7 linked regions of the Homo sapiens genome follow. The protein of the gene in region 7 interacts with the protein of the main gene of each other region in a biochemical or structural test. Each region holds a gene or a part of one and is shown on either strand. Other genes may lie near its edges. The genes, in order: KCTD3, NHERF1, ARHGAP6, PTH2R, PALLD, SLC45A4 and MAGI3.

Region 1 (3,500 bases), about 100 Mb from region 7:
TGTCTTGAGGTACTAAATCTGCAATTAAAAATCATCTGGTATTATAAGTGAGAACATGATTTGAAATTTCAGTATTAGTTAACTTGTTTTAATACACTGGCTAATGATTTACAAGATGTTTTATAGTTATAGCTGTACCAATATATTTATTACAGTTAATATTTTTAAACGTTGCTACTTTCAATTCAGAGTTAAGATTATACAAGCAGCTCTCAATAACAATAAACAACTTGTTATCCGCCATATAATGCATCTTAAAACACTACTTTCCAATAAGCTAATCTCTGCTGAAGAATCAACAATTAGCCCATCACACCAAGTCTCAACTTCTCAGTATAACATTCAAAATTACCTTCAGGTTCCATCTCATCTCTCCAGTACAAATGCTGGTTTTCCCCTCTAATAGGACAAAACTTCTTCATATCCCCAAAAAATTCATGCTTACTACCATTTTGGTATCTTTATTCAGCTAGATCACTCTCTTCATGTCCAATAATTCAAGATCCGTCCATCTTTCTTGATACCACTCAGGTTTTACCTTCCCTGTAATAGTTTTTCTAAATATCCAATCCTGTATTATCTCTTTTTAAGCTCATAGTAATTTCACTGTAAATTACTCATTTAACACCTTCTTTATAGGCAGTCTTGGGCTATCTGCAACTGCTGACTTCATTCATTCAAAAATCATTCAGCCAAATACATCACTGTTCTGAGGTTGTCATTTGATCAAGCTTGTATATTACCAAGGGAGGATCTTTACCAAAGTACAGTATAATAGACTGGGACAACAAACCAATAATTTATGTAAACTGATATGGCAAACAAAGCAATATAGTACTTGTTCAGTCCAGCCCTTCTCTGAGTATTTTCATTTTAAGATATCACCTTGAACTACAATGTTATCTCACCCAGCCTAGCAAACCTCTACTTTCACTCCACATTTATTTTCTGGCATTATATGAAATCCCTAAATTTATTTTTACCTTTCATACTTAAACTAAACAAGGTGACTGAATAGTGGCACTAGTTACCATGCACTATCACCAGGAAACACAGGCCAAACCCCAGCCAAAATGGCTAAGGGATGTTTCCCAGGCTGTGCATGTATACACTGTATCATCCATCTATTGTCTGCCATTACCTAAATTAGCAGCCTGGAATTATCAAAAACGTGGAAGTTGCTTACTTTTTTTTATTATGCTCACTGCAGCATAACAAACCTCAAAATACATCCTACTTCCCATTCCCATCTTCTAAGTGGGCTATTAAATAGCACTGGATTGCAGGCCAGGGTGACTGTGACTACCAAGGCTTATACAGAGTAGTGTCAGAAGTCTCACAGATCTCTCAACTTTGCAAGTCCATCCAGGCACCTGAGGCAACAATGGCTCATAATATTTTACATATCTTGATAAATGGATTATCTGTAAATTCACTTTTCAAACTCAGTTTCAGAAATGGATTTTGTATTAAAAAAGTAGATGTTGTTTTTTCTTAAAGCCAGAGAGGACCACCTAAAAGCATTGTTCTTAGCACCTAGCACACACCCAGTAAATGTTTATTGAAACTTATGTGTGATAAACAGAATCACACTCTAAAACTCAGTTAAATGTTCTGTACAAAACGGAGACTTGATTCTTCTGTACGATCTGCAGGCATTTTATGGTTACAACAGAGCACTTTCAGAATACACTGGTGTTGACACACAGATGTCACTAAACTGCCCACTTAAATCATTTAGCAGTATCAGTCTCAGTGTCAGTAACAGCAGAAGCCGTGTATGCACTGTTCCATAAAAAGTGCCTTAGTCTCCAAAATAAATTTTCTATCATTATCAAAACATGCTTTCCAATCACAATTAAAAGTTTATCTCGGCTAGGCGCGGTGGCTCACGCCTGTAATCCCAGCACTTTGGGAGGCCGAGGCGGGCAGATCACGAGGTCAGCAGATGGAGACCATCCTGGCTAACACGGTGAAACCCCGTCTCTACTAAAACTACGAAAAATTAGCCAGGCGTGGTGGCGGGCACCTGTAGTCCCAGCTTACTCAGGAGGCTGAGGCAGGACAATGGCGTGAACTCAGGAGGTGGAGCTGGCAGTGAGCTGAGATCGCGCCACTGCACTCCAGCATGGGCGACAAAGCGAGACTCCGTCTCGGAAAAAAAAAAAAAAAAAGTTTATCTCCACTTCTTCCCACATACAACTTTACAATTTGTAAGGAAAAGTATTCTTTCATTGGCTAACTGAAGGAAAGACAGTAAAACAATTCATTTATTAAAGACATTTAAATGTAAACTACAGTAAGGGGTACTTTAGGGAACACATAGAAGTTGACTACTAACTAATTTCACAGGTTATGGACAGTCTAGGTGTTTATAAGCAGTTCCTACGCCCATTTATCTGATTAACAAATGAGTCACTTTAAGAAAACACTGCAAATGCTCCTAAATGCGTTTCTTAATAGACTCTTAAGAAAAATAAAAAATACACAGATTACCCCAGTCACAGAAAACTGACTTGGTCCAAAATCAAAGCAAATCCACTCAATGGTAAATTGAAGGATCCAAGGATTCATACATTGCAGATTCACTGTTTTGGAGGCCATCAAATTCATTCCAAATGAGGACAGCTTATAACTTGCAATCTTTTATATTCACCACTTATTCACCAATTGTATTCCAAATAATTAAAATTATGTGCTACTTAGAAAATCACAAAGGTCTGCTTAAAATCATATTATCAGTTTCAATTTTAATCAGCATTTTGGGGAAAGGTTAGTAACCTGGAATTTCTGGGCAAAGGAATTAGACCCTCATCCCCACCAATTTTTTTTTAAACTTCTGGCCCCAAAACCAGTCTCGAATATAACTTCATGAAAACTAACACACTTAAAATTACACATGATGAGCATAATCATTTGAAAGCCTTTTCTGTTTTGATTTGTTTTTTATCCCATACCCATAGTGTCCCAAGAACAGAGTCATGTACAATCTGGTTTCAGCAAAGGACTAAAGAAATTTGCATACCCACAGTTATACTTCATGCAACTTGCCTCCTACTAAATTAACTTGGTAGCAATCTAACTAGTTATTTATTCTGCACTGTAAGTACTGATAATGCCACTAACCCTTGCATTTCACATTTATTACTTCAAATTCCTATAACAATCTGATAAGATTGGTACTACTGTCTGTCACTTTACATTTTAATAGACTAAGTATCAAAATATTTGTCCAAGGTTGCTAGGCTAGTTAGAGATAAAGCCTGGGAATTGGAAACATATACCTGACTCAAAAGCTCTTTGTCCAGGAGTCCTCAATGGCTAGTCCCAGCCCTCTTGCATGAGGCCCAAAATCACACTTGCCCATAACAGAATTAATCATAAATTCAGTCATAGTGAATTCACTTCATTACTTTTTGTAAATAACGAATACTAACAATTCTAAATGAAACTTCATCTACTCTACTTTCTGAATCACCCACAAAGTATTAAACCATAAA
Region 2 (3,500 bases), on a different chromosome or scaffold from region 7:
CAGGCTTCAAGCACAGCCTACTCATGTGGCCAAATGGCTGTGCAGGCACTAGAGTCAGAGGGTTGGGTTCCAAGACACACCCCTGCGCTGTGTGGGAGGAGTCGCTAGCTCAGAGTCCTGGGACCCGCCATGGCCACCTTAACTGATCAAGCCTCAGCCTCCATAGGCAGAGAATGGGGCCAATATCTGCCTCACTGGTGGTCATGTGGATTAAATGAGACAGGCAAGGTTAGTACTTAGCACAGTGCTAGACACAAATAGTAGCTATCATGTATTGAACACTTACTGTCAACCTACAAAATAGAGAAAACAATAGCTAATTTGTCTGGGGGACAATGAAATGCATATTGGCTGGGTGTGGTGGCTCATGCCTATAATCCCAGCACTTTGGGAGACCGAGGCAGGTGGATTACCTGAGGTCAGGAGTTTGAAACCAGCCTGGCCAATGTGGTGAAACCCCATCTCTACTAAAAATACAAAAATTAGCAGGGTGTTGTGACAGGTGCCACCCAGCCTGGCCACCGTGGTGAAACTCCGTCTCTACTAAAAATACAAAAATTAGCAGGGTGTGGTGGCGGGTGTTTGTAATCCTAGCTACATGGAAGGCTGAGGCAGGACAATTGCTTGAACTTGAGAGACGGAGGTTGCAGTGAGCCGAGATCACACCACTGCACTCCAGCCTGGGCAACAGAGCAAGACTGTCTCAGGAAAAAAAAAAAAAAAAAAAAGAAAGAAAGAAAGAAAGAAAGAAAGAAATGCATGTCAACATCTTTATGTCATAGGTAGAGTGCCTAAAGGCACTGTACAAACCTGTTTCCTTCCAGGTAGGGCCACTCTATCTTAGAGCAACGAAAACAGAGGAACATTTGTTATTGGGGTCTAGAGCTCTGGTTTCTCCCTGTAAAGAGTCCTGCAGCACCAACAAGACCTCGGCTGAGCTTCTTCTTTCTTTTTTTTTTATTTTGGAGATGAGTCTCACTCTGCTGCTCGGGCTGGAGTGCAGTGGCGCGATCTCGGCTCACTGAAACCTCCACCTCCCAGGTTCAAGCCATTCTCCTGCCTCAGACTCCCGAGTAGCTGGGATTACAGGCACCTGCCACCACGCCTCGCTAATTTTTGTATTTTTAGTAGAGATGGGTTTTTACCATGTTGGCCAGGCTGGTCTTGAACTCCTGACCTCAACTCCTGACCTCAACTGATCCACCCGCCTCGGCCTCCCAAAGTGCTGGGATTACAGGCGTGAGCCACCGTGCCTGGCCTGAGTTTCTTATTAATTTCCCACCCCACTTTCCCAGGGACCATTGAGATGGGACATCTGGGAAAGGGGAGAAGGACCCCATCTAGACATATGGAGTTCCTTGAGAAGGAAGCCCCCATTCACCCCCCTCCCCCTGTTTTTTTGGTAGAGACGAGGTCTCACTATGTTGCCCAGGCTGGTCTCAAACTCCTGGGCTTAAGCGATCCTCCCGCCTCAGCCTCCCGAAGTGATGGGATTACAGGCACAAGTCACTGCGCCCGGCCAGGAAGCCCCCATCTATCTCCAAGAGAATCATCTCCAGAATTACTGAGTTAACAGGAGCTTGAAGGTAAGAACCAGGGGCTACACTGTTTTGCCAGCAAAGAAAGAGATCCCAACACACAAACAATCACATACCCTGTCCATTTCAAATCCAAACACCCAGCAGCTCAAGCTCTGTTCTGCCCTACCAGAGCTCCAACTTGGTTGGTGTAAAATGGCCCGCCCGCCCTGGGAAAGAGGTTGATGGCCCTCCAGCTAACTGTGCCCCACCACCCACCTTGCTCCCTGGGGTGCCTGCACTCTGACTCTGGGATCAGGGTCAGGGCTGGCAGGAAACACCCCAAACTAGCACTTTCATTTACAAACCTGTCATGCCACCAAATCTTCCCAATAACCCTGCAGGCAGTGCCTTTCACAGAGGTGGAGGCTGAGGGTTGCAGGGAAAAATGAACTCCCAGGATCCCAGAACCAGCACACGGCAGAGCTGGGATTCAAACACTGATCTGGCTGACCCCAAAGCCTGGACTTTTGGCTTTCTAGTTTTCAAATAGAAGCTGCTAGCAGGCAAGAAAGAAGAGTGGGTAGGTTCTATCTGGAATTCCAATCTCTGGGCGGGGCGGGATGAGCTGAATGAGGACAAAGGTCCCTGACTGTTGTTATATATTCATTCATTAATTCAAAAACTGTTTTTGAGAGCCTCCCTACCATGTGCCAAGGACAGCGCTGGGGATAGAAACACAAATAGGCCACAGTTGATGCCCTTGGGCTTACCACGTAGTGGAGAAAAAGGTCACAAACAGATGATTAAAATATTGTGTGTTTAGAGCGATAAAAGATGTAAGGACAAAGAGGAGGCGGAGGCCGAGGCTGGCAGATCACCTCAGCCCAGGAGTTCAAGACCAGCCTGGGCAACACGGTGAAACTCCATCTCTACAAAGAATTTAAAAATTAGCTGGGAATAGTGGTGCATGCCTGTAGTCCCAGCTACTAGGGAGAATGAGGTGGGAGGATCGATTGAGCCCTGGAGGTCGAGGCTGCAGCGAGGCGAGGTTGCGACACCACTCCAGCCTGGGTGGAATCTGTCTCAAAAAAAACAAAAACAAAAACAAAAACAAAAAAAGTGAAGGAAAGGAAATGCTAACTCTGCCTACTGGATTAAGGACAGGCTCCCTGGGAGGGGACAGAAGTGTCAGGGTGTGAAGGCTTAGAGGCTAGAGGGGAATTCGGACCCTGGGTGTGGTTTTGGGGGTAGGGAGGCAGTGGTGAGAACAGGCTGCCAGATGGAGAAGGGCCATGGAACAGCATATAACTCTTAAAAAAAAAAAAGAAAAAATTTAATAGAGACAGGGTCTTGTCATGTTGCCTAGGCTGGTCTCAAACTCCTGGGCTCAGGCGATCCTCCCACTTTGGCCTCCCAAAGTGCTGGGATTACAGGTGTGAGCCACCACACCTGGCCACAACGTATCATTCTTAACCCACAGTGACCATCGATCAGGCACTGACTGTGTGCCAGGCTTGGCCACAGTGGCATTTGCCCAACTAGGCAGGCTGACCCAGCGCTAGCTGCCCCATGATAGGTGTGCAATGATCACTATGAAATATGTATTCATTCCAATACCAACTGCAAAGGCTGGCTGAGCCTGGACTCAGTGCCAGGCACTGAGCTACGTGCTTTACACACAGCCTCATGCAATTCCGAGGTAGCTGCCATAACCCCCAACTTACACAAGAGGAAATGGAGGCTTACAGAGGTGAGGTAACTTGGCTTCGCACAGCCTGGCTAGTACAGCTGAGCTGGCTCGGCTCTGCCCGGCCGGCACTCTGAACCCAGACTCAAGGGTTTAGGCCTCATCCTGTGACTGGTGGTGAATGGGGGGAGGAGGGCTTTAAGCAGGGGAACAGCAGGGCGGGTCTTGCTGCTCCTCTCTCCCCACGGGGCAGGCGGGGAAGGCCATCCACAAAGCAAAGCCGGTGGGCAGAG
Region 3 (3,500 bases), on a different chromosome or scaffold from region 7:
GCACTAGTGCCTTGTAGAATCATTTTAGATGTATTTGAATAAAATGGAGTCTAGTGAGGGTCATATATTTATTGTTTTTGTCACTACTTTATACATGAAACACTTATTCCCACCGGTGGCATCAACATCTTTATCACATGAAGGATGGATTTATTTACACTAAGTACAGTAAGTATTTTGGTGGGATGGAAAAGTTGTCCAGAAAGCCATAATGAACTTCAAGCAAAGTGTCAACCATAGTTTTATCTGAATTATTTTTAATGCAGGATATTGAGGAAAGTGAAAGAGTTATCTACTAGTGTATCCTTACCTAATAGATAGTGAGCATCAGACTTTCACTTAAAAATGGAAGCAGGAATGAGTCCCTGAGGCACTTAGCGATGCCCATTGGCAAATGCAGGGCTCCTTGTCGGTTTCATTCTCACCGTGCCTTCTCCATCATTGCCTTTTCCTGTTATATCTGTTGGGTTTTACTGCCCTCTGCTGGTCATATCGTTGAAACCCTTTCACGTCATGGATGTACATGTCTTGGAACATTGCTCAAAATGGTCTTTTTGTTTCAGCCCGTGTCCACGCATACTCCTCCAGTCATTTGTGTAATAGCCATATTGTTTAAATCTGGTCACTACTTGTTAACAAACTCACGCACCTGTAATTGTCTCATTGTGCCAGAAGCCCTGACATGCTGCAGTCGGAAGTTTCCTTTTCCGTGGGAGGGAGGCATTCATCTACAGACTCCAACAAGGCCTCCAGCGGAGACATCTCCCCTTATGACAACAACTCCCCAGTGCTGTCTGAGCGCTCCCTGCTGGCTATGCAAGAGGACGCGGCCCCGGGGGGCTCGGAGAAGCTTTACAGAGTGCCAGGGCAGTTTATGCTGGTGGGCCACTTGTCGTCGTCAAAGTCAAGGGAAAGTTCTCCTGGACCAAGGCTTGGGAAAGGTAACTGGAGCCTGGCCAGCAGGCGCTGGCCAAAACAAGCGACCCTCCTCTTGTTGCATGTGGCATGGTGTGGGGCTCTTCGGACCTTCTCTTCGTCTCTCCCTTATTTGATGTTTCTGTAATTCAACCTGCATTTACCGAGTACCTGCTGAACGCCTACTCTAGGAAGAGGAAGGTATGGCGAGCCCAGTCGTTGGCTGGGAGGGTCCCTGCAGGCCACACTCCAAGTCTCAGATATCTGGGAAATAAACGCATGCCCAGAGGAGCCACTCCTATTCCCAGCTGATTCTTTTTCCCTCCAGCATCCTAGGAACTTTATGTATACTGGATTTGGGTTGCATATTTGCTAGTCTGAGGTGCCACCCAATTACTGCTGTTACATTTCTAAAGAAAACAAGCTGAACCTACTATATGTATGAAGACAACCTTCCAGAACCAAATAGTGTTAGTATCCAATGACAAGAGAGCACTATACTGGGAGTCACAAACCTGCTCTGCCACTTTCAACCTGCAGGATCTCCAGTGAGCGATTGAGCTTCCCAGAGTCCCATTTCCTCCTGCTGTGAAAACTCAGAATGATAACAGTATTTAATTCATTGAGTTTAATGAACTAATCCATGTAAAGCCCTCAACGCAGCACTTCAAATGTAATACGCACTCGATAATACTTGCTGTGTAATCTTGTGTGCATTTCTTACCTGCTCCTTACGCTAGTTGCATCGTCTGTAAAATGATCTGCTGGGAACCTCCTAGGGATGAAGTGAGATAACGCATGTGAACTGCTGAACACGTGGAGGCACCCAGTAGACGTCTGCTGCTATAAATCGTAATTATAATCCCATCATGGGATTGTAGTGAGGATTAAATGAGATGGTGAAAAAGCCTAATGTAGTGCCTTACTCCATAAATATTGATGGATAAGCTAAGGGGATTTATGAGTGAATGCATGCATGAAGAAATCCAGTGATACCAATAGCAAAGTATTCCTGAGGATAGTACAGAAACTCTATTGTTCCTCTAGTTCTGTGTTAATGTGTTTAGCACCTATAAAGCTGTTGTCACCCATCACCCTTCTATTCATTTCCTATAACATGCAAACTTATTATTTTATGGTTCTGGAGGTGAGAAGTCTAAAATGGGTCCACAGGGCCTCTTTCCCTTCTGGACGTCCTAGGGCACAATCGTTTTCTTGCCTTTTCTAGCTTCTAGAAGCTGCTGCATTCCTTGGCTCGAGGCCCCTTCCTCCATCTTTTAAGCCAACAGTCTAGCAACATCTTCTCTCCTACCCCTCTCTTATAAGGACCCTTGTAATTATATTGGCCCCATCCAGATAATCCAGGAAAATCTCCCCATCTCAAGAACCATAATTTAATCACACCTGCAAAGCCCTTTTCGAAAATAACATCTTTGTAGATTTGTGGGATTATGACACAGATATCTTTGGGGGGGCCCTTATTCTGTCTACCACGAGCATGATATAGAAAGGGCCTTTTTGTAAATCCCAAGTAGAATGAACACGCTGAAAGGTGGATCTGAATTGTATTCTGTTTTGTATACAACAGGATCTTGAATACAATACTTTGCACAGAAGAGATGTTATTAAAATGTTCATTGATTTTTAATTTTCCTTTTGTGTTATATACCTTTTTATACACTTTTTCCCTAGATCTGTCAGAGGAGCCTTTCGATATCTGGGGAACTTGGCATTCAACATTAAAAAGCGGATCCAAAGACCCAGGAATGACAGGTGAAGTATTAATTTTAAACTTTATTGCATTTACTTTTAAAATTATTTTCTAAAGTTTTCTTTACTATCATTATATTACATGCTTGTCAAACATTACTTGGGAAATGCTGAAAATGGGAGGGGATGAAACTATCCTTAGGCTTTCCACCCAAATATGCCAATCTTTGACTATATTTTTTTCCATTTCCTTTGCAAAGGTTTTCATAGTTACAGTCACTCTGTCTGTGCAACTTTGTATTATTTTCTAACTTCCATTTTCCAGTTACTCTCCATTATCCTTTTTAAGGGCCAGGGGTATTCCACAGAGTGCATAATCATAGCTTACAAACCAATACTAAGTCATTTGAAATTTTTTGTTATTGTTGTAATAAGTTACACTTTCAGGAGCCTCTTTTATGTAATTAATTTTTCAAATTATTAATAGATTCACAAAATTTTGGAAAGCAAGTCAAAGGTTATAAATCCCAAACAGGGAAGTGCGTCAAATATAACAAGGCTTTCCAAGAATCTGGAGGTACAGTCACCTCCTGTGCTGTATGGGACCCACTACCTTACATTCTGTAAACTGTGGATGGCAGGAGATTTTACACTGCTGTGTGCAAATCTCATCAGTATTGCAAGTTAGTGGGTTTTCACTTTTGCTAACTTAAAAAACAAAATTGCATTTGTTAATTTGATTTGCATTTCTTTCCTACCAGTATTTTTCAGTGTTTCTATTAATTTGCTGAACTTCCCCCCATTGAATTGTTACTTATATCATTTCCTATTTATGTATGCCAGTGTTTTTTAAATTCTTATGAACTCTTTATATA
Region 4 (3,500 bases), on a different chromosome or scaffold from region 7:
CTACAAACATAAAGTATTGTATGGTAAGAATACAAAGAAACCTTTTATTTCGTTCATTCAAAAATATTTACTGAGCTTATGCAGTGTGGTAGCTGTTCAGCATGACAGGGGCAGGGATAAACAATGTAAACAAAACAGACAAGTTCCCTGTTCTAGAAAGGAAGAGACATGGATAAAATATAAACAAATAGCACATGAGAAAAATGCAAAATGAGAAGGGTTATGCAAGAAAAGAAATGAGTGATTTTAAAAAGAGTAATGTAGTGGATGTATTAGATGAGGAACTCAACAAAGTATCTCTGAGAGTGATACTCAAGTGTGTTTGAGTGACAAGAACAAGTAGCCAGCTGTGTAAATATTTGGGGAAAAAGCAGTCCAGGCAAAAGGAATACAAGTGTGAGCCCTAGAGGCAGAGGTGAACTTAAGCAACAGAACGTATGGAAGCAATATTGTGCCCTAACTTAATGAGCTACATGGAGGCTGGTGTGATACAGGGTGAGAGGCAGACAGGCTCCACGACATGCAGGGCTGTGTATGCCAAACAATGGTATGTGAGTTTTAGTTTGACTGCAACTGGAAATCTTTGAGTATTTCTGGCAAGTATATGACATGATCAAATGTATATTCTTAAGATTCTCCAGACTATCATATGTGGACTAGCAAATGAGTAAGCAGGACAAAGAGTAATCCATGTGCGAGATGATGGTAATTACAGCTTCAAATGAGATAAAATGTGTGCCAGCAACCTCTTCCTCAGTTTTGTCTCCCCTCCCCACTCCTTTTTGCTCTTTCCTGCCTTCACCTTCTTTTACTTTTGTTTATCTTCCATACACACAAGCAGAGGTCCTCATTCTTATAGGTGTTACATATTTTACAACAAGATGTTCCTTATCTCTCTGTCCAGGCTTTTTTTGTGTGACGAACAGCTCCAGAACTGCTCCTGCTGTGAGCAGAGGATTAACCTGACCTCTATAGGACAGAAAAGCACAGGCACTATAGAAATATTGACCTTTCTGCACCCCCCAACTCCCCAGACAGGTGCATCAAAGCCAGAGAGAGTGCAGAGAAAAAGGTTGTAAGTGACCAAAAGGAAAAAAAACTGCAAATTACAAGAATCAGATGACTAGGCAGCACCCTTTACCTGAAAGGAGTTGAAGAAGAGCTCACAGTGCATGCGGATCTCCCACCCGAGCCCAGTGAAGGAGTGAGGCAGGCATACGAACACGATGTAATGCACTCCAAAGACTAGGACCAGGACCAGTGTCGATTTGGCCAGTTTCCTAAAGGAGAACAGCAAGTCTTTTCATTCATTAACTAGAGTGCCTTTCAGTAAAGACAGCGTGCTGGAGGAAAAAAAAAACTTAGCAGAGCTAATGGGGGTGGGGCTGACACTTTCTTTTTATCTTTTCTTGAGACAGGGTTTCACTCTATCTGTCTCCCAGGCTGGCGTACAGTGGCGTGATCACAGCTTACTGCAGTGTCGACCTCCTGAGCTCAAGCAATCCTCCTGTCTCAGCATCCCAAGTAGCTGTGACTACAGGTGCTTGCCACCATGCCTGAATATTTTTTTAATTTTTTTGTAGAGACGGGGTCTCGCCATGTTGCCCAGGCTTGGGCTGACCTTTCTCTATCTCTTTGGATCCCACTGCTTCTGCTAGTTTTTTCCCTTCCCTCCTCTTTCTGTCACTTACATACTAAACCAGGTAGTTTATTCTCACTCCCTGTAATTGCTAGCCCCTAAATCTCTCCAGTCTTATTTCCACTCCTCTTGCTTAAAGGAGTCTATTTACATAAAGTTGTAAAATGCCTTTTTTCTGTCCTAAGTTTCCTTTAACTTCTATATTTGAGACTTAAAGAAGTGTTACTTCTATCCAGATTAACTGCCTTTACTTTCATAGAAGTAGTTTAGCTTATTTTGTTCATTTTAAAATCAATTACTCCCTTGTTTCTTCTTACATTTGTATCTCCATTTTTCACTGATGATGCTTATTTTGGGAGACATTTTATATTTTTCTATGAGCCATATGTGGTCAGTTCATCTTGACTTCTCTGAATATTCTCTGCCAAATACTCTGTCTCAAGGTGCCTTTAGGTCTATTTTGTCTGTCTTTTTGGCAAACTAAGTAGTTTGATATAGTTTCATCATTCTCCTTAACTGCCTCTTTCTACAAGTTTTCTTAAGTATTTGGAAGAATTCCAGGCTTTCCAATATGATGGTTATTCTAAGTGGGCTTCCATGATCCCCCCTCCTGCTATTTTTGCCCCTGTTTTATCCTTTCCCTCTAAGTGTAGGCAAGACCTGGGACTTGTGTCTAACCAGTAGATTATGGCAAAGATGACAGCATCCCACTTCTGAGATTACATTGCATAAGGCTGTAACTTTCATCTCACTAGCAGACTGGCTCTCTTGCTTGGTTCGATGAAGCAAGCCACCATGTTGTGAGCTGCTATACTGAGAGGCCCATGTAGCAAGGAAAGGTGGCATCTGGACAACAGCCAGCAAGTAACTGAATCCTACCAACAATCACATGAACTTAGAAGTAGATTCTTCCCCAGTCCAACCTTAGGATAAGACCACAGCCCCAGCTGACAAATCAATTGCAGCCTGGTAAGAGATCCTGAAGCAGGGGATCCATACCCAGATTCCTGACCTACAGAAACTGGGAAATAGCAAGGGAGTTGTTTTAAGCCGCTAGGTTTGTGGTCATTCCTTTTGCAGCAATAGATAGCTAGCACCCTCAAGCATACTATTTTCTGGGAGGTTTTCCTGGAGTGGGTGAGGTTATACTTTTTATCCAAGAAATTGCCAAATCTGGCTTCTTCTTTCATAATTATTGCAAATATCTCCCTTTCTCTGTGAATTATTTACACTCTAATAATCTCAAACAATTGACCCTCTTCCTTTCTCACTAGTCTTTCCTCCTGCTGCTTTATTTATCTGTTTTTCTTCTTGGAAATAAGCTGTATGAGTGAGTACAGATCACACTAGACTAAGGCTACAGAGATCTTGATTCAGGTTCCATACTTGATATTAACTACCTGTGTGAGTGTGATTTAGTTTTATCTCCAAAATGAGGAAATAGGGCCTAGAAGTCCATATGAGCTATAATATTCTCAGGCTTTACTGGGAATCATCTTCCATGTACATACACTTTCCTATCATAACCCTCTTGACAATAGGAGCTAGAATGTCCCATAAAATCATGTTGAAATCATATTGAAATGCCTAATGTAGAAGTAGGTAGAGTTGTACATTTCCTACACCTCATTGTCCTCTGCCTGTCTTATCTCTCACTAGTACCTGAACCATCTGCTCCACCCACTCATCCTCACATTCAGAGCTTCCCTGCAGCCTACGGGCTTTCTCCTATGCTGCTCCTGGTACTCACACCTCCTACTTTGAGTTACCTACAGCCTATTCAATATGAAGATTCTACCTTAAATCTATTCCATCCAAGGCAAGATCCTTGATAAACAGTGGGTTCCTCTGACCTAACTGG
Region 5 (3,500 bases), on a different chromosome or scaffold from region 7:
TTTCTTTTCTCTAGCTTACTTTAAGACTACAGTCTATAATACATATAACATACAGAATACGTGTTAATCAACTCTTTGTTATCAGTAAGGCTTCTGGTCAACAGTAGGCTGTTAGTTAAGTTTTTGAAGAGTCAAAAGTCGTATATGTGTTTTTAGTTTTGTTTTGTTTTGGAGACGAAGTCTCACTCTGCTGCCAGGCTGGAGTGCAGTGGTACAACCTCAGCTCACTGCAACCTCCACCTCCCGGGTTCAAGCAATTCTCCTGCCTCAGCTTCCCGAGTAGCTGGGACTACAGGTGTGCGTCACCACACCTGGCTAATTTTTGTATTTTTAGTAGAGACGGGGTTTCACCATGTTGGCCACGATGGTCTCGATCTCCTGACCTCGTGATCCACCCACCTCAGCCTCCCAAAGTGCTACAATTACAGGCATGAGCCACTGTGCCCGGCCATATGTGGGTTTTTAACTGTGCTTGGGGTTGGTCCCCCTAACTCCCGTGTTGTTCAAGGTCCAACTCTAATGGGAAATATTCACTAGTTATTTCAGACAATGTCGGCGAAAATGTGTTTCTCCACACAAAATTATTTTGCATAAAACTTAGGATAGGAAAATGGAAATGTACTGGAAAGGAGAATAATCAAGAAGAAGAATAAAAAGAACAGGTATCACTGATGGAAAGAATTCTGTCAGTCACTTAACATAGTATGTGCTCAATAAAAATTAGCTGTGAGGTTGACTGATGATATTAATACTGCTTTTCTGTGACTTGCCCTCTACTTTCCACAGAACTCATCCCAAGAACAGTATCCATAAGGAAGATGGAAAAGGGGGACAGAATAAATGTTACCCTAAGAAGTCCAGAGCAACATGGTACCTGATTAGCTGTTTCCTCTTCTGGCTCCTGAATATTAAAGACAGTTGCACTGTCAGCACCTAGCAGTCGACGAGCCATTCTTTCTTCGTATGTTAACCTCTAAACAACGTAAGTCACAAAAAATACAAAATTAGAAAAAAATCACAAATATGTACTGCCCTATGAAAAAGAGTAAAAAACAACACACTTTCATGATTTTCTGTAAGTGTTCTCTCTCCAGCTTCAGATACCTGCATATTTCTTTTTCTTGCTTCAGTTGTTCTACCTTTTTACCTCCCTTTCTAGTACTAATGGCCTAATCCAGAGAGCCACCAATTGGTACAGCACAAATTTAAAGTGAGCAATAAGCGACAAGGAAGAAACCACACAGAAAAGATTTGTCATGTCCTTAATGAAAAACATGGAAAAAAAGATATTTAAACAGCAAAATACAATTTAAAAGAAATGTTATTTTTATAGCCATCCATCAGCTTCAGAACACCCAAGTCAGCTCTAATACTGACTGAAAGAAAAAACAAAGATACTCAAAAGGAGAATAAACTGACTAAAAAAAGAACAGGTATCGCTAATGGAAATAATTCTATCAGTCATTTAACAGTATGTGCTCAGTAAATGTTTAGCTAAAGGAAGATGTGGATGAGCTGGCAGTGATGGGGTTCTTACCTCTAAGAGCATTTCCCAGGCTGCTGTGTAATGTAGGGGATTGGCGGCAACTATTATAATCCACAGAGAATGATGCACATGGCTGAATTAGCAACAGGATTACACAAGACACTTGCCAAAGCTAACAGCCTCAATTGACTTGACCCAGAAGCAGACTGCTTGCCCATCAGGCAAAGAAAGTGGTAGTGTTCTTGCATCTCGCAGCTAGCACTTTGGAATTGGCCCAAACCGTTTTACCTATGCCATTCTTATACATAAGAAATGCCGGCATTTTTGTGTGACTGTTGGGGTGATACCTGCTCTTGAATACTCATTCTAAAGTGCCTTAGACTTACAGGTTTGGAAGGAACTTTCAGATACCACCTGCCTCATCGGGAGCATTTTATAAGCAAGTGTTTGATTAGAAATAGAGAATAATTGGTAAGGCAGAATCTAAAAAATGTACAGAAATTATTTCAGATAAACTTCCAAACTTCTAAATATAAATGCAAATTTGATTGGAAGCTCTCTAATCAGGAAAATATGTTGGGTAAATTTACAATTTCCAGTAATTGCTGATCTCAATCCCAGCTGAAACCGGGAAGTGAAACAAGTCAAGTGCCAAATGACAAATAGTCCTGCAGTTCAAATTATTTCACTTAATAAAGAAAGGTCAGAGGACAAGAAGAGGCAGAGGTAGGAGTCTGAGGGCGGCATGAAGCATCTGAGTCCACTATGTTATTAAATTAATTTTCTCACACCTATTAAAAAATCAGTGAATTCAATTTTCAAAGAGAGTCTTAAATACCTGATCTCTTAAAAAGCTTCCCTAATCTTTTCACGGAGAATTGTAACACATCAAAGGCAGGCCTGGAGTGATTTTCACTCTGTTCCTTATAAGCAGAAATATCAATTTCATATCTATTCCTTCACCAGAATGCACCTGCTACCACTAGAAGCCAAATATACTTCACAGTTTTTTTTCTAAGTCACTATGCCATCTGGCTATAAAAGCCCGTGTCTACAGACACCAAAGATAAGAAAGAGAATGATATATAATATTAGGAAAAAGTTGGTTGAGAATCCCATTTTCTAAAAAGGGAAACCTTACTTGTCATTTTAAGCTCTCAAGTGTGGATACCTGTGGAACTTACTGTGAATGTTATTCACTGCTAAACAGATGAATATAAATATACATACAATATATATAATGTGGGTTGACCAATAGCTTAAGGAAGTCTTACCTTAACCAAGAGAATCTTAGTTCATAAGGAACATTGACATAGACAGCCAAAAAGAAAAAAAAAAAAGCTGGAGTGATGCCTTACCTGGCTTGAAAAAGTTCCCATATGTATTTATTTTAATCTTTTAAAAGATTTAGTTGACAGAGCCAGGGAAAACTTCCAGAGTATGTACATTTACACATGCAATCACTTATTTCAGGGAGAAAATATTTTCCTCTTGTGAAAATCTTCTATACTCAGTGAAATGAGTAACTAACACAAAACTTCATTGAAATTTTAATCTTTCTTAATCAGATTAAGATACCCTAATAAACTAAAATCAGCATTCAGCACCCCTCCTCTGCTCTCCAGCTTTCAAGTGTGGTCTGTTCTCACAGTTTTACTTATCAATGTTTGATAATTAAAATTCTCAGAAAACATAATTATAGAGAGCTTTCTACTCTGAAAAAGGTGTCTGAAAGGGAGATTTTATACAAAAAGATCCTTGTCTTGTACTTAAGAGCCAGGCAAATTTTTCCAGTGACAATTCCTTAATAAAGCTACAGAAGGTTCCTCTCCTTTACCTGGTAAGTCTTATTTTCTAGATTTGCTTTTCCCATCCCCTTAAAATATTCTGGAAATAGTATTTTAAAAAGAAAAGAGTATTTTAAAAGGATAGCATCAACAAAAGAGATGAAAAAACAAACAAAAACTGATGAGGAAAGACTTAAATCCAGTGGAGAAAACATCTTATCTATATA
Region 6 (3,500 bases), on a different chromosome or scaffold from region 7:
TCTTTCAAGGACTACCTGCTCAGACGTTTTCCGCACCCAGCCATGGGTCAGATGCCCTCCTCGGGGTTCCCAGGCCTGCCCCATCACCCTGGCCAGATGGCTGTCTTCTCAGGCACCTGCCTTGAGCCTGGCACTGAGCAGCCACCTGGGGACCATCTCCAGAATGGAACATACCACAGCAGGCCCAGTCCCCTGCTAGCTCACAGTCTGAGCCTAGTGACAGTGCCCAACAAGAGGGCAAAATTGGGCACCAAAGGCTCAACCCAGCAAGCCAAGTGGCCAACCCGAAAGAAACAAGGAAACAAATTGGAGCGGCAGCACCTCCTCCCTGACCTCCGCAGGAGCCAGGGAGCCAACCCAGAGGGCAGTGCCAGCTGGGCACAGCTGCCCATACCTGTGGCAGCCAGGAGTCCTTCCTTCCAAGCTCTTGGCCAGGGAGGAGGGGTGTGGGAACTAGCATGCTGCGTGGGCCAACAGCAGGGCTGGCCACAGAGCCCCCTCCAGCAGCAGCTACCTGGCATGGGGAGTGACCGCAAAGGTGCCTCAAAGTCGAATCCAAGGCATGGAGGGCACTGCTGCATTTCTCCACGCAGAAGACAAACGGCACTTTTCAGTGGGGGGTGGGGGGAGCTGATGAGCAGTGCGACCCAGTGGCCCACAACTGCACTAGGCCGGCCGTATCCGGTGGCTCCTCTCCCTCACCAGTGCCCCCACCAGGCGCTGCTCCAGAGGTCCCAGCTGGGCGCCCGGCACGGATGCAGATGCCGCACTGTCTAGCAGCGTGAGTGCTGCTGTGACCCCTTCTCAGGCGCTTACTGAGTGCTGGAGACAGAAACCCCTCACACACCCTGGTTACCACACGGAAGCAGAAGCTCCGAGCACTGGGTGGCTTCTGGAAGGTCACAAAGCCAAGGAGGGCCCAGCCCGGACTATAAACTCTCCCTGCACCCCACCCACAACGAGGACGCCAGGCTTCATGATGTTTCTACGGAAGGAGAAAGCGGACGGGGAGCCCCGTGCCTTTAAGAATTAAAAACACTCTCGACACCTCAATAGTTCAGTAGTGGACTAGACATGTTTTCAACAGCCTTGATATTCCCTTCGGCTTACCTAGGGAGACACCTGTCACACTAGAGACACCAGCTCCAGGCTGCAAGTCCATAACAAGACCACCTGAGCTGTGGGTGTCGTTCTCGCCACCAAATCAGAGCTGCCCTTCAAATGGGCACGGTTAGGGACAGCAGAGCGGCCGTGGCCGCAGCCCCGGGATCCGGCTTCATCCAGCAGAGGGTGGTGGTGCGCAGGCCCTGATGGGGGAGGACTTCCACACTCCAAGCTTTTAATGCCGTTTTACGTAAGCAACACGAAAAAAACCACTAGCAGTTATTCTAGTACTCCTGGCTGGGAGCGGATTTGCATACTGAAGTAAAGCCTCAGGTTAGGGCAGGAATTTCTAGAACCAGCTGGACTCTGCTGTACCTGTTCTTCTTCAGCAGCCAAAACGTTTCTCAAAGTCTTTTAAGAGACTGAAACATTGATTTCAGTATTAATACCCAAAATACCACGAAAATATAAGGATTTGCTGCTTTGGAGAAGGGACCAATGGAGGATCCCCTTTCCAGGGTGATTTAATCCGGTTCTGTGGGGGTAATTAGGGGCTGGCCTGTCTTCCTGGTCCCGTTCTTCACTGTTTAAACCGCAGGATTCCTAGAACACGACCGTGGAACTGCTCTTCTCCTCACCCATCCCTGGAATGAAGGCACTGGCCCCATGATCTGACGACATCATCGCCTCCCCAAATAGCTGCATGGCCGAATTGGAAGTGACGCATTCTTAGTGGACTCCTAATGGCCAGCCCTGAGGACAGAAGACAGGTTAAAACTTCAGCCGGACCCACATTACCGATTCCACAGAGTTGGGCGAGTAGCCTGCTTTCCTCCAACAAAGCTGGGAGACACCAGAGACCCCAGGTCCGTCAAATCTCCTCTTATGTCATAAAACCATCACACAACGCAAAGTTCTACTGCTCTCAGTCCTCAGCGTGCTGTTTCTGAGTGGGATGGGAAGTGGTGGTTTTTTGGTTACTAAACTGATTTTCTTACCAAATTTCATTAGGTCTAAAGGCTAAAAATAGTAAATCTTTCTACTTTTTGAGCATCTCCAGATTTGAGCAAATTCTCAGGGATGCCAAGTGTCAACGCCCCGGACCAGCCTCATCTGGTTCTCGGGCAGAGGCCCACCTTCCCAACCCACCCCATGGCCCTGATCCTAATGGCAACCTGATGGCCTGAGACCAGCTGCCTCGCTCCGGAACAGGCACAGCGATGCCCTGTGCAGGAAGAAGGGCGGAGCAGGGTGACCAGATTCCTGCCAGGCAAAAACCTCTAGCAAATCTAAAGTCTGGCCATGTCAGTCTTCTCTGCTTCTAACACACCTTTCTGTCAAATTAAAATTTAACCCGAGGCACAATTCCACTGTCTTACATTTTAGCCCAACCAGATGAAAATGCCGCAGCGTGCTTACTCGTGAAATGGTTCATCTTCTGCCCTTTAACACTGCGCATTTAGAAAACAGGCAATTAAATAGTAAAGCTTAACATGGAGCAGCACGGACCCCGTGACTCGACGAAGTGGCGTGGACCTTACCCGTGGACCAAGTGTGCGAACACAGCACAGCAAGCGCCCCGTGCAAACACAGGAGCATCCTGAGGGGCCTCCGGTGTGGGGAACTCAGAGAGCCGCAAGGTCCCCACAAACGCCTGCCTAAAACTGGACTGCCTGAGAAGCTGCTGTGGAGAAAGTCCCGGTGCCCAGGGAGCCCCCACCTCCAGCCTGCCTGCCCCGCCTAGACAAGAGGAAGGCACTCTTCCCAGGGAACGTTCCAGCAACAGAGATGTACCCGGTACCAGGGACAGTTCAATTATCCCTTTAATTAAGGCACCTTAAACGGGCCCCACCCCCCAGCTCTTTGAGACCTCCTTCCGGTGTATTTTGTGCATTTAGTAATTGTTTATCAAGATCAATGATATTTATGTTTCTGTGATCAATTCTGTACTGATAATTACAATGACATAAAACATTCTTCTGGATGTTAACATAGCCTAATGATCACAGAAATGTTTTAAATTGCAATATATACTTTTGTCACAGAGAAGTATGGAGAACAGTCCATAGGTCGGGTGCAGTGGCTCATGCCTGTAATCTCAGCACTCTGGGAGCCTGAGGCAGGAGGGAGGGTCGCTTGAGGCCAGGAGTTCATGACCGGCCTGGGCAACATGGTGAAACTCTGTCTCTGCCAAAAATACAAAGAAAAATTAGCTGGGCATAAGCCCAGCTACCTGGAGGGTGGAGGTGGGAGGATCACTTGAGCCGGGGAGGTCGAGGCTGCAGTGAGCCATGATCTCACCACTGGACTCCAGCCTGGGGGACAGAATGAGACCCTATCTCAAAAAAAAAAAAAAAAAAAAAAAAAAAATCCTGGGCAACTCAGTGAGACCCCAT
Region 7 (3,500 bases):
TATAATTGATGGAAGGGTCTGATGAACTTTAACCGCCTCTGACAGAATGCTAAGATGTATGGGGAAGGGTAGGAGACTACTGTTAGCTTCTCTGCCTTCTCATTGGGTCTGGGTGATTGAAGGGTCCCCTCTAGCACGACACTTTGTAGTGGCTGACCCCTGATTACTCCCTGACAGACTGGTGCCCCTGCATTCTAGTCATTGTTAATGATCACAAACATCCATAATCTCCCTCTCCTAACAATAATCCAGGAAAACGAGCTGGTCTCAAAACCATATTTCTTAGGCCATTTATTGGATTTCATTGTTAACATTTTATTAAATAAGTCATTTTGCTTGGCTGTTATCTTGGGAAAGTTCTAGCTGAATAGGAAAAATATCAAAATATGCTACTATGCTTTCCCTTATCTAATTGTCTTGCATGGTACATTTTCTCTTAATATATGTGAATTGGCCAGACAGGGTTTTCACAGTGCCATCTTTATAACCTAAATTAGAGTTAACCTCTCCTGTTTTCTTAGAAAGAGTATTATCTTAAACATCTTCCTTAGAAATTAAACTCAGTGAATGGGAGGTGGGCCGTGCTAAGAATTTTATGAAGATATTCTCTGAATCTCCCTCTTACTTTACTTAGAAGTGCTGCCTTGTATTGTATTTCTATTTATCTTCATCTCAAAGTCAATTTGTGTCTTGGTGGTGGAGAAAAGGGCAAAATTGTTTAAACATAGGACTAACTAAGGCTCTTCAGTTGATATTACTATAAACTTTTTTCTAATTTAAGTTAAATATGTTTCAACCAAATACACATTGCTATGAAAATGAATTCCTGTAACTGTAAATCTGCTGTGTCTTTGATCCTGCCACCTATACAACTATAATCAGTTGACATATCCATTTCAGATATCAGTTTTATGAATTAATCAACCATCTGCTTTTTAAAAAATACTAAGTAAGGCTCTTTTCCATTTCAGAAAACAGATAAAAAGGAAAATGCAGGAAGTTTGGAGGCCATAAATGAGCCTATTCCTCAGCCTATGCCTTTTCCACCGAGCATTATCAGGTCAGGATCCCCAAAATTGGATCCTTCTGAGGTCTACCTGAAATCTAAGACTTTATATGAAGATAAACGTAAGTAGTTGTGGAATATTTCAGGAGAGCATATAACAAGATAAATTTGGATTTATTTTAGACTAGGACCTTCCCATCTTTCAGAAGCATATTGAAAAGTTATTCCTTCATTACCATTTTAATAGAACTCTGGACTTCTTCCATGTATATTCGACATTCACACATTCATTTTTTTCAAAATCATGCTTTAAGTGCTAGTTATCTACCAGATGCCATACTAGGTAACCAGAATACAGAGATAAATAGGTTACATAGGACCTGCACCCAAAAATATTATTAGAACTAAATGGAAAAAGACAAATATGTAATCAAATAGTATACAAATAAGTACACATAATAAGCCTAACAGGTACAGTGATAGAAAGATGAAATGGATAAATTGGGATCCAAAGAAGGAATATTCAGTTTTATCAGTGTGGGCAGTAGGAAGTGTCAGGAAAAGCTTCATACTGGAAGCAAAGCTTTAACTAAGTCATCAGGGATGAAAAAGTGTCTTTGAGGAAGATAAAAGGGAAAGATAGAAGGAATAGCACATGCACACTGGCCTTGCATGACTTGGGCTCTGCAAGTAGTTCACTTTCGCTGGGTGCAATTGGCAAGGAAAGTCACAGAGGAGAGCAGGAACAGATTGAGGAAGGCCAATGATGCCCTTCCAAGGGAGCTGGAGTTGGTCATATAAATAACAGAGAACCACAGAATGCCTTTAACTATAAGGAAGGCATAGTTTTGTGTTTTAGAAAGGTTTTTCTGGCAGGAGTATGAAGGATGAATCAGAGGTGTATGCAATTTGAGGGAGGGTGTGCAATTTGAAGAAGAAACTAAAGAGTTGACTCCTTACAGGAGTCCAGCTGAGAGATAAAAAGAGAGACTGCATAAGGCAGAAATTCATGCATGTTCCTACTAATTCACTTACTAATGATAAATCTTTTCCAAAGTAAAATTGCAGATTTGAGTAGGTATAATTTTTTAAAATTTATTTGTTCTTAGAAAGAGATGTAAATCTACCTTGGAAAAGATATGTACAAGTGGAATATATGTATAGTTGACTTAATGCTTATTTAACTAGTTGCAGAAGTACATCTTGATAATCCCAAGCCATATTCAGAAAGATGAAAACCAGTTGTACGCCCAGCAAAGCAATAATTTAAATTAGCATAACAATGTAGAATCCCTTTCTTCATACTTTCCATTCATAGCCTGATACATTATTAATACTGGTATAAACTCTGCAGTCCCATCAGGCTTCACCCATAAAATAAGTGAGTTGAACTGATGACTCTTTTTTTTTTTTTCCCCTGAGACAGAGTCTTGCTCTGTCACCCGGAGCTGGAGTGCAGTGGCACAATCTCAGCTCACTGAAACCTCTGCCTCCTAGGTTCAAGCAATTCTCCTGCCTCAGCCTCCTGAGTAGCTGGCACTACAGGCGTATGCCACCATGACTGGCTAAGTTTTGCATTTTTAGTAGAGACGGGGTTTCACCATGTTAGTCAAGCTGGTCTCAAACTCCTGACCTCGTGATCCGCCCACCTCGGCCTCCCAAAGTGGACTCTTTTAATCTCTAAAGTTCTACAATTTTAATAGGAAGTATATATCAAAAGATACTGCTTCTATAGAATATTATCAGGAATTTACTAATCTCACTTTTTACATAGTTCCCTGACATGTTTATTTCTTCTCTCTTTACAGTAAATACTTCTTACCTATAAATAACATTAATATTTTCCCAAAGGAAAAATTTTAGTCATGAAATAGATTTTTGTGACTTAATATTCTTTTTTTTTTTTTTTGAGATGGAGTCTTGCTCTGTTGCCCAGGCTGGAATGCAGTGGCACGATCTCAGTTCACTGCAACCTCTGCCTCCCAGGTTCAAGCAATCCTCCTGCTTAATATTCTAAGGAATACAACCTACCCTTTGAGGGTAGGACAGTATGAGTTAGGAGATTAGACCCTGGAAATCAACCTGGATTTAAATCTTAGCTTCACCACTTGCTATGTGACAATGGCCAACTTACTTACACCCTCAGTTTTCCCACCTAGAAAATGGGGCTAATAATAAATGTTAGCTCTTAATTATTTTCCTTTAAAATGCTATCATTTTGCAAAACTAGGCTAGGTAAGTAGTTCATATGGAATACTTTTCTGAGAGAAAGGTATTAGCTTGAGAGCAGGAATAAGGTATTTTACAGGCACTCTATACAGCAGTGCCTGTACAGATTTAATGTACCTTACCCAAGTGTTAACTTAGGTCATTTGCACCTGTCAAATATCAAACTCAAGTTTGATCATTCTGAATTCAACATTGTTATATTGATTGGACAGCATTAGAAGTTAATGGCAGTGTAATACTGAGTATATGGAAGTGAGAGTAAATG

The links.
Region 1: the proteins of MAGI3 (region 7) and KCTD3 interact in a test that uses a peptide from one of them, tested with the Homo sapiens proteins (one large-scale study listed by IntAct).
Region 2: the proteins of MAGI3 (region 7) and NHERF1 interact in a test that uses a peptide from one of them, tested with the Homo sapiens proteins (one large-scale study listed by IntAct).
Region 3: the proteins of MAGI3 (region 7) and ARHGAP6 interact in a test that uses a peptide from one of them, tested with the Homo sapiens proteins (one large-scale study listed by IntAct).
Region 4: the proteins of MAGI3 (region 7) and PTH2R interact in a test that uses a peptide from one of them, tested with the Homo sapiens proteins (one large-scale study listed by IntAct).
Region 5: the proteins of MAGI3 (region 7) and PALLD interact in a test that uses a peptide from one of them, tested with the Homo sapiens proteins (one large-scale study listed by IntAct).
Region 6: the proteins of MAGI3 (region 7) and SLC45A4 interact in a test that uses a peptide from one of them, tested with the Homo sapiens proteins (one large-scale study listed by IntAct).

Annotation. Positions count from the first base shown.
Region 1 is NC_000001.11:215,570,304-215,573,803, reverse strand, and holds part of KCTD3 (BTB/POZ domain-containing protein KCTD3), read right to left. Parts: intron 19-3,500; coding exon 1-18. UniProt on the Homo sapiens protein: Accessory subunit of potassium/sodium hyperpolarization-activated cyclic nucleotide-gated channel 3 (HCN3) up-regulating its cell-surface expression and current density without affecting its voltage dependence and kinetics.
Region 2 is NC_000017.11:74,751,628-74,755,127, reverse strand, and holds part of NHERF1 (Na(+)/H(+) exchange regulatory cofactor NHE-RF1), read right to left. Parts: intron 1-3,500. UniProt on the Homo sapiens protein: Scaffold protein that connects plasma membrane proteins with members of the ezrin/moesin/radixin family and thereby helps to link them to the actin cytoskeleton and to regulate their surface expression. Necessary for recycling of internalized ADRB2.
Region 3 is NC_000023.11:11,141,421-11,144,920, reverse strand, and holds part of ARHGAP6 (rho GTPase-activating protein 6), read left to right. Parts: intron 1-672; coding exon 673-941; coding exon of another isoform or gene 942-1,063; exon of another isoform or gene 1,064-1,524; intron 1,525-2,607; coding exon 2,608-2,688; intron 2,689-3,500.
Region 4 is NC_000002.12:208,486,792-208,490,291, reverse strand, and holds part of PTH2R (parathyroid hormone 2 receptor isoform 1 precursor), read right to left. Parts: intron 1,281-3,500; coding exon 1,142-1,280; intron 1-1,141. UniProt on the Homo sapiens protein: This is a specific receptor for parathyroid hormone. The activity of this receptor is mediated by G proteins which activate adenylyl cyclase. PTH2R may be responsible for PTH effects in a number of physiological systems.
Region 5 is NC_000004.12:168,892,052-168,895,551, reverse strand, and holds part of PALLD (palladin), read right to left. Parts: intron 1,067-3,500; exon of another isoform or gene 974-1,066; coding exon 875-973; coding exon of another isoform or gene 787-874; intron 1-786. UniProt on the Homo sapiens protein: Cytoskeletal protein required for organization of normal actin cytoskeleton. Roles in establishing cell morphology, motility, cell adhesion and cell-extracellular matrix interactions in a variety of cell types.
Region 6 is NC_000008.11:141,298,289-141,301,788, forward strand, and holds part of SLC45A4 (solute carrier family 45 member 4), read right to left. Parts: intron 3,224-3,500; exon of another isoform or gene 1,163-3,223; coding exon of another isoform or gene 1,111-1,162; intron 1-1,110. UniProt on the Homo sapiens protein: Proton-associated sucrose transporter. May be able to transport also glucose and fructose.
Region 7 is NC_000001.11:113,645,515-113,649,014, forward strand, and holds part of MAGI3 (membrane-associated guanylate kinase, WW and PDZ domain-containing protein 3), read left to right. Parts: intron 1-971; coding exon 972-1,128; intron 1,129-3,500.